Linked DNA regions of Homo sapiens. The protein of the gene in region 1 purifies or fractionates together with the protein of each later gene. This does not show direct contact. Each region holds a gene or a part of one and is shown on either strand. Other genes may lie near its edges. The genes, in order: DAPP1 and GAK.

The links.
Region 2: the proteins of DAPP1 (region 1) and GAK purify together in Homo sapiens (affinity purification with mass spectrometry; one large-scale study listed by BioGRID and IntAct). This does not show direct contact.

The regions. Positions count from the first base shown.
Region 1 is NC_000004.12:99,819,598-99,823,412, reverse strand, and holds part of DAPP1 (dual adapter for phosphotyrosine and 3-phosphotyrosine and 3-phosphoinositide), read right to left. Parts: intron 1-3,815. UniProt on the Homo sapiens protein: May act as a B-cell-associated adapter that regulates B-cell antigen receptor (BCR)-signaling downstream of PI3K.
Region 2 is NC_000004.12:869,612-873,426, forward strand, and holds part of GAK (cyclin-G-associated kinase), read right to left. Parts: exon of another isoform or gene 3,690-3,815; intron 3,615-3,689; exon of another isoform or gene 3,457-3,614; intron 1,294-3,456; coding exon 1,100-1,293; intron 1-1,099. UniProt on the Homo sapiens protein: Associates with cyclin G and CDK5. Seems to act as an auxilin homolog that is involved in the uncoating of clathrin-coated vesicles by Hsc70 in non-neuronal cells. Expression oscillates slightly during the cell cycle, peaking at G1.

The DNA.
Region 1 (3,815 bases):
GTAGTAGTACATGGCTGACATTTTAGTGCTTTTCTTTATATTTTGATGCTTCTCTTCATCTCTCTAATTTTTGATAATTAATATATATTACTATTATTTTCAACTATTTATTATAAATAAATTCAGATATACTGGAAAGTAGAAAAATAGCATCAATGTTACTGCATTGAAATAATACCCATATTTCAGGTAGAATAATTTTTAACCTTTTGCCACATTTTTAATACAACGTTTAATTTTGACTCTTTCGATGAACAGTTTTAAAGTAAATTACAGATATCCTGACACTTTAACCCTAAATAATTCAACATGCATCTCTCAAAAGTGACATTCTTTTACATAATCATCATACTGTTATTAAAACAAGTGATTACTCTTACACTTTTTAAAGTTATAAACATTTTTAAACAAAGAAGGTCTAACAACAGATAATGGGGGCAGGTGCTAGTGGGCAGGGTCAGGGGAAGCATGACCATAAAGAAGCAAGTGGTGAGCAGCGAACACTGATAAGGCCCAGCAGTGTTCACTGTGCTCTTGGTAGAGGCAGGCCTCTATCAGGCAGTAGGACACAGAGGTCGATGGGCTCAGAATAGGAATTTATCCTCTACGGGAGTTGGTAGGAGCCAGAAATTAATGCAGGTTTTAACAAAATATCTAAGAGTATGGTCATGAAAACAGAAGTACAAGAGAAAAGCCAAGTTGAAGCTTCTCATAGGATGAGATGGATAGAGGTAGAGACCAGAACCAGACCACCAGAATGCTGACAAACCAGATGGGTCTTGGGGACTGGGTGGGTCTGAGTTCATGTGAGCTTTTTCAATTCTGAATCCTTGCATATTTTGCTACCATCACTCCTTTATTCAGGCCATTTTCTCTGTAGAAAATTTCACCTTTTCTAACTTCAACTGACAAAAATCATATCAGCTCCAAGGCCATCTTCTCCACTTCTACTGTGGAGAAGATAGCCTTCCATAGGAGATTGTTTTATCTAGACACTGTCACAGCCCTCAGCCCACACAACACTGCATTCTAACTCTACATGCATATGAATCCTCCATCTCTGCACAGCCATGCCTTCTTTATTGTAGTCTCCTCTATGCTGCCTTGCCTGGCGTCATCATACAACAGATAGATCTATGACCCAGTAGAAGAGTGAATGAATGAAACAAAGTGACTCCCCACAACATGGACAGTCTGTGGGACAGATTTCCACTTGTAAGTAGAAGGAAGTCACCCTTTGGAGGAACAGAAAAACACCACAACTGAAGAGGAAATTCACTTGAGTTATGAAGAGATGGAACTGTACACTAGTTACATACTAATTATACAACCACAGAAGAACCACCTTCCGTTTTTAGAATCCAAGATTACAGAGCTGTGCACAGAAGAGGAACAAGCTGTATTGCTGTAGTTAGTGTCACACCGCTGTAAACAGGTTCCACTGAAATTTTGACTTTACGTTTCTTAGCTGAATAAATTTTTCTAGTCCTGAAAATGAATTCTACACAAAATTCAATAATGTTCTGATTAACTAGAATGCTGGCCTGGCTTTGTGTACATGTGCATGTATATTATGTGAGGAATAGAAAGAATAATGTCTTTTATAGTAAACTTTGTTATAATCACAGAACTTTCTTTGCTTCTCTCAGTTCATATTAAGAACTATGAACATGTACTAGTATAGTAAGATGAGAGAAATTTGATGAAAACCAGGAGGTTACATCAGCAGTCAAGCATGAAGGCTCTGGAGCAAAACTCTTGGATTTGAAGGTATGTTAGAATGGAAACTTAAGCATGTGATTAAAACTCTGTTCTTTACTTTTCTCATCTATAAATGGGGACAACATTAGTAATAATACCCACCTCACAGCAATGTGTAAATTAAACAAGTTCACATGGGCAAAGGGCTTAAACTAGTGCTTAGCACATGATAAGCATCCAATAATTACTAATTGCCATTACTAGAATACATACCTTTGACCAGTGGGCTCTACAAAGCAGCACCATGCAGTGGAAAGCTCTGGGGTAAGTTCCTAGGTGTGTCTCTCAGCTCCACTACTTACAAAGTCTGTGACCTGGATCGTATACTTAGCTTATTGAAGTCACCTTTTGCGTCTATGAAATGAGTATGGTGATATCGTATTGAAAGTGTTATTGTGAAGCCTAAATGGCATTATGCGTGTGAATGGTATGGTGCTGATGCATAGTAGGTGGTCAGTAAATTAGGACTATCACAGCAGGGAAACAACCTGGTTTGTGAAGTCAGCATGGGTTTTGAACACAGACACTCAGAGACTGTAGGCAACCTGATTTTTCTGCTCTTGAGTCTCTTCCTGTGTAAAGCTGGAATACCAGTGCCTTTCAAAGACCAGAGCTGGTGTCTACAAAATGCCTGCCTTATAATACGGACTCATTTTGTTTATTATCATTTATTCCGTGGGTCAGCAAACCACCAGCTGAGGGTTAATTCCTGTCAGACACCTGTTTTAGTATGGACTGGGAGCCAAGAATGGCTGTACATTTTGAAATGCTTGAGGGAAATAGAAAAATATTCATAAAAATTATATGAAATTCACATTTCAGTGTATAAATAACGTTTTGTTTGAACACCATCACGGTCATTTGTTTCTGTGTTCTCTGGTAGTTTTTGCACAACAGCAGATGTGAGTAGTTGAGGTAGAGACTGTAAGGCCTGCAAAGCCTAAAACATTCGTTACCCGGCCCTTTATAAAAAAAAGGTTTGCTGCTCCATGGTCTACTCTAAACTTCTCTTATATGTGACTAATTAGTTATCAATTTATTTAAATATTCAGAGCTTGGAATCTAGTTCTTTGGCACTGGCCAATCCAGCCAAACACTGGCACTTTCTTATACAACTTTCGATTTGAGAAAGTATTTAAAAAAGAGAACGTTTATTATGTTTCTCACTTGGAGTTACAACTGACTAGATCATTTGAATATTTAATTTTAAAGTATGCTAAAACACTTTCATTTTGTTATTTCTTTTGTGTTTATACATATATATAGCTATATGTAGAAATAGTATAGTAACCTTTGTTAAAGCCAAAGAATTGCTGGAATTTTCAGTAATTTAACTAGCTATTCTTTACCAGTTTGTTACTTAGGTGATATCTCCAGTATTTGTTACTTGTTTTATTTTGCCATATTTTCATTTTGCAAGCAGCAAACAGCCTGACCCATCTCCTCGTTCATGGTCCACCTCCTTCCTCTCCCCTGATTCTCCACACCCTCACTTCTTGCCCTCCCCACACCTCTCTTCCCCCTAAGCCCATACCCTCCCCTGAGAAGTGTAAGCGAAGCTGAGCAACAATTTAAGATGGTTTTATTTCTCCTTTGCTTCTGGACACATTAATGTATTTTAGATGAAAGAAAATTAATGATTTTAGGCTGACACTCTATAAATGAGACATGGAAAAGCACTGTGTTGCTTGATTTAGGTATTTTAGAAAATAATAAACCTGTACTCTGAGCAAGTTGTATATGTCCTGGAAAGGCAAGTGATGGATTTGCTGCAGTTCAGGGCTCAATTTACAGGATTTACATATTCCAGAGCCTGAAAAAAACAGAGGCCCAAGAACAAAGACTTCTGCTATTTCTGTAATTTAACCACTAACTTATCTGTTTATGTCTATCAAAAACATAAACGTAAGGATTTATCTAACTACTCAAATAACCTCTTAAAAATAATTGAAAAATTAAGTCATTAAAACCAGCTACCTTTTATCTATCCATTACATTAAATCATTTTGTTTTTAAGGAGGTCTTTGGAAACTAAATTAATCAGAAGGTTTGGT
Region 2 (3,815 bases), about 99 Mb from region 1:
ATGCAGGGTACACATGAATGCACACACACAGATGCACAGTACACACGAATGCACACACAGCACATACACACATGCAGGGTACACATGAATGCACACACAGCACACACAGATGCACAGTACACATGAATGCACACAGTACACACAGATGCACAGTACACACGAATGCACACACAGCAGAGATGCATGGTACACACAAATGCACACACACAGGCACAGTACACATGAATGCACACAGCACACATAGATGCAGGGTACACATGAATGCACGCACACAGATGCACGGTACACACACATGCACACACTCGGATGCACAGTACACATGCATGCACACACACAAATGGACGGTACACACGAACGCACACACAGCACATACCGATGCATGGTACACACGAACGCACACACAGCACACACAGATGCACTGTACACACGAATGCACACAGCACACAGATACACAGTACACATGAATGCACACACCACTCGTGCACACACACACACGGCACACACCACCCACGGACACATACACAGCACGCACAGGTCACACATACAGCCTCTTTCAGGGACGCTGAAGATGCTCAGAAAGAAAAAGCAAACACTGCAAACCAAGAGCCGAGAACAAGCGTGGCATGAGCAGTGGACGGCCCTGGGCCCACCTGCCAGCACTTCCTGGGCTGCCGTTTCGAAACTGCTCGGAAGTGAAGAGCGACAGGAGCGAGGGTTCTGTTCCACATGCTGCCAGCAGGCCTGAGGCTCACAGTGAGAGTGGACGTGTGTCCAGCACACATGACAAAAATCTGACCCAGACACACGCCTGGGACAAAACCCCGCTTCGCTCCAGGAGCCTGGGTTTTCCTCCCTCTGCCTCCGTCCCTGCCCATGGGCCTCAGAAATTGCAGCCTGCGAGTCCTTCTCTGGTGTAGCTGGTGGTGGTGTCCAACATCCACGACGGAGTTTCCAAAACCTCCTGCAGCCCAAGCTGCTCAGGGCCTGGGTGCAGCAGCAGGCGTGGGGCCCAGCCCTGCCAGAGCTCAGCCAAAGGTGTCTCTCTCCACAGAGACACTCACCAGAACAGGGTTCACCTAATTCACCTGCGGGATCTTACCAAACTTAGACAGAATGTCTTGCTGCTCCTCCCGGCTGGAAAACAGGATTTTGGGGTTCAGCCCCCTCATGCTCGAGTTCTCCCATGGTGGGGCTTCCCGGCTCGGCCTGTCCCTGGGCTCCACCTCCACTTCCAGGTTCACTTGAAATAAATCCGGGTATTTTTCTTGAATGTCACACGCGTCCAGGTCATACCTGCGGTTACAAGTAGACACCACTTAGGAAGGCCACCCAAGTAGTCTGTAAGTCCTTGGACATTCACTAAAGAAACGTGCATGGAAACAGGTGGCAGCTGCAGGCAGCGGGGCGAGAACAACCAGGGCAGCCGGCCACCCCCGCCTGCGGAAGCTGGAGCCCTGTGAGCTGACCCAGCAGCTGTCCCAGGAACCCACAGGGCACCAGCACCCCCGGTCACGGCCCCAGAAGAGCATCATTTCACTCGCTCCTCGGACGTCACAGTGGGGATGCCCGCGACTGTGTTCAAGGCAGAGGGGCACCGGGCGGGGCCGCCATGTTTCCTGCAACTCCAGGGGAGGCCACGTGCTCAGAGCAGACGGGACAACATCCCACAGCTGGAGACTCCGGCACCCAGGCAGGCAGCTCTGAGGTGGGACCCCAGGGTTCCAAGGCAGGCGCTGGCCCTCACTACCCAGCACACACAGACTGCAGCCACCCGGCAGCTCAGAGCACGCACTCTGGGATACTAAATGTGTTTTCCATAAAAATGACGACGTCCGCCCTGACAAAAATCCACAACTGTCAACAGATGCCCATAAAACCAAGACCTCTAGAATCCGGCTGCCAGGGAATTGGGAACATGATTCCGGGGGAAACAAAGCTGTGTTCACTGTGGGGCTGGGGAGGCAGCCCAGGCTGAGCTGTGGGGAGCAGGGCAGAGGTCAGCAGGGCCTGCCTTGGGGTGTCGGCCGTGCGGGTGGGGAGCAGGGCAGGGGTCAGCAGGGCCCACCTTGGGGTGTCGGCCATGTGGGTGGGGAGCAGGGGCAGGGGTCAGCAGGGCCCGCCTTGGGGTGTTGGCCGCACGGGGAGGCAGGTGTGACCTGACACTGACCATTTCCCAGCCCCACAGCTCTCTAAGGAATTCCAGGCTATTTCACACATTTCCTATGATCATCTCTGATCCCACTGTCATAAACTGCACTGATAAGCCTGGGCTCTCCAGCGGGCAGCAGGCTCCCCATGCCTGTCTTATTTTACGCCACCTAAAATCTCTACATGTTGAATGTTATACACCTAAGAAAATAAAGAAGAAACACAAAAGAGTGGCGGCCAGTTCCTGGGAAACCCAGGCTGCCAGTGTCTGCAGGGCCAGGAACACCCAGAGCAGAGTGGGATCCGCCGAGGGAGGGCAGGGAGACGGGCCCGGCGGCCTGTGTGGGTCAGAGCCACGGCTGGTTTTAACTGTCACTTCTCTGAGCTCCACACATGCCTGTGATGTGTGAAAGGCCTCTAGTTCACCCCTTCCTGCTCACCCTCTAAAACATCCTCTCCCTGCACGAGGGGAGAGCACCCTGTGCCCGCCCTGAGGGGTGGCCAACCTCACGCAGAGCAGCGCCCCCTCAATGCCCACTCAAGGCTCTGGGCGGAGGTGGCCACGGCCGAAGCCGGGACTGATGTGCACTCCAGCCGGGGCCAACACGAGCTTCCCCCTGCGCCCGAGCCTCTTTGCGTGCCGCTGTCTGTCGTCAGGGGTGGCAGGGACTGCACAGCGGTGGCACAGCTGGCGTGGAGATGTGGAGGAGGCAACGTCTGCAGAGGAGCCTGCAGGCACCAGCAGAGAATCCGACGGCCACCGCAGCGGAGGCTCAGACCGGCCACGACCGAGGGCGGAGAGGCACAGTGGGAGGGGCACGGAGGGAGGGAGTGTGCAGGGAGCCAGGTCGGCCAGACGGGCTTGGGTCCTGGGACAGACCGAACTTGGGCAGCCCCAGAGGGAGTGCCGCTCATGCCCAGCCTCCCTCCCCCAGCTGCCCCTTGAGATGGCCCTGGGCACTGGGCCTGCAGGCTCGGCTCACCCAGCCTGGCGCTGAGGGCACAATGAGGTCTGTGAGCAGGGCTGGCCACTCCCGAGAGCCCTGGACTGCAGAGGACACTGCCCGCAGGCTCCTGCCAGACTAGCTCCAACAGGGCAGAGCGGACTCCTGACAGGCTCAGCTGTTACATCTGTGCCATGGCTGCAACCCTGTGCTCCTCTCGCCCAGGCACGGCGCAGGCTCACCACGCAGGGAACACGCCTCTCGCCCAGGCACGGCGCAGGCTCACCACGCAGGGAACACGCCTCTCGCCCAGGCACGGCGCAGGCTCACCACGCAGGGAACACGCCTCTCGCCCACAGCGCAGCCTTGATCTCGCAGGTTCAAGCAATCCTCCTGCCTCCCAAAGTGTTGGAATTACAGCTGTAAGCCACTGTGCGCAACCAACCTTTCTTCCTTTTAATGTATGCATTTGAAGTTACACATTTCCTCTAAACCCTGCTTCAGATGCACCCCACACATCTGGTAAGTGGTATTTTGATTATCAATGTGTTTAAAATATTTTCTCATTTCAACAGTGATTTCCTTTTTGGCACACAGGTCACTTAACGAGCATACGGTCTCTGGGTGTTTTCCTGTCACTGATTCCCACTTTAATCCACTGTTGAGATGCCTTGAGACTTGCTGTATGACCCAACGTGGAGTCCACTTTAATAAACGCCCACT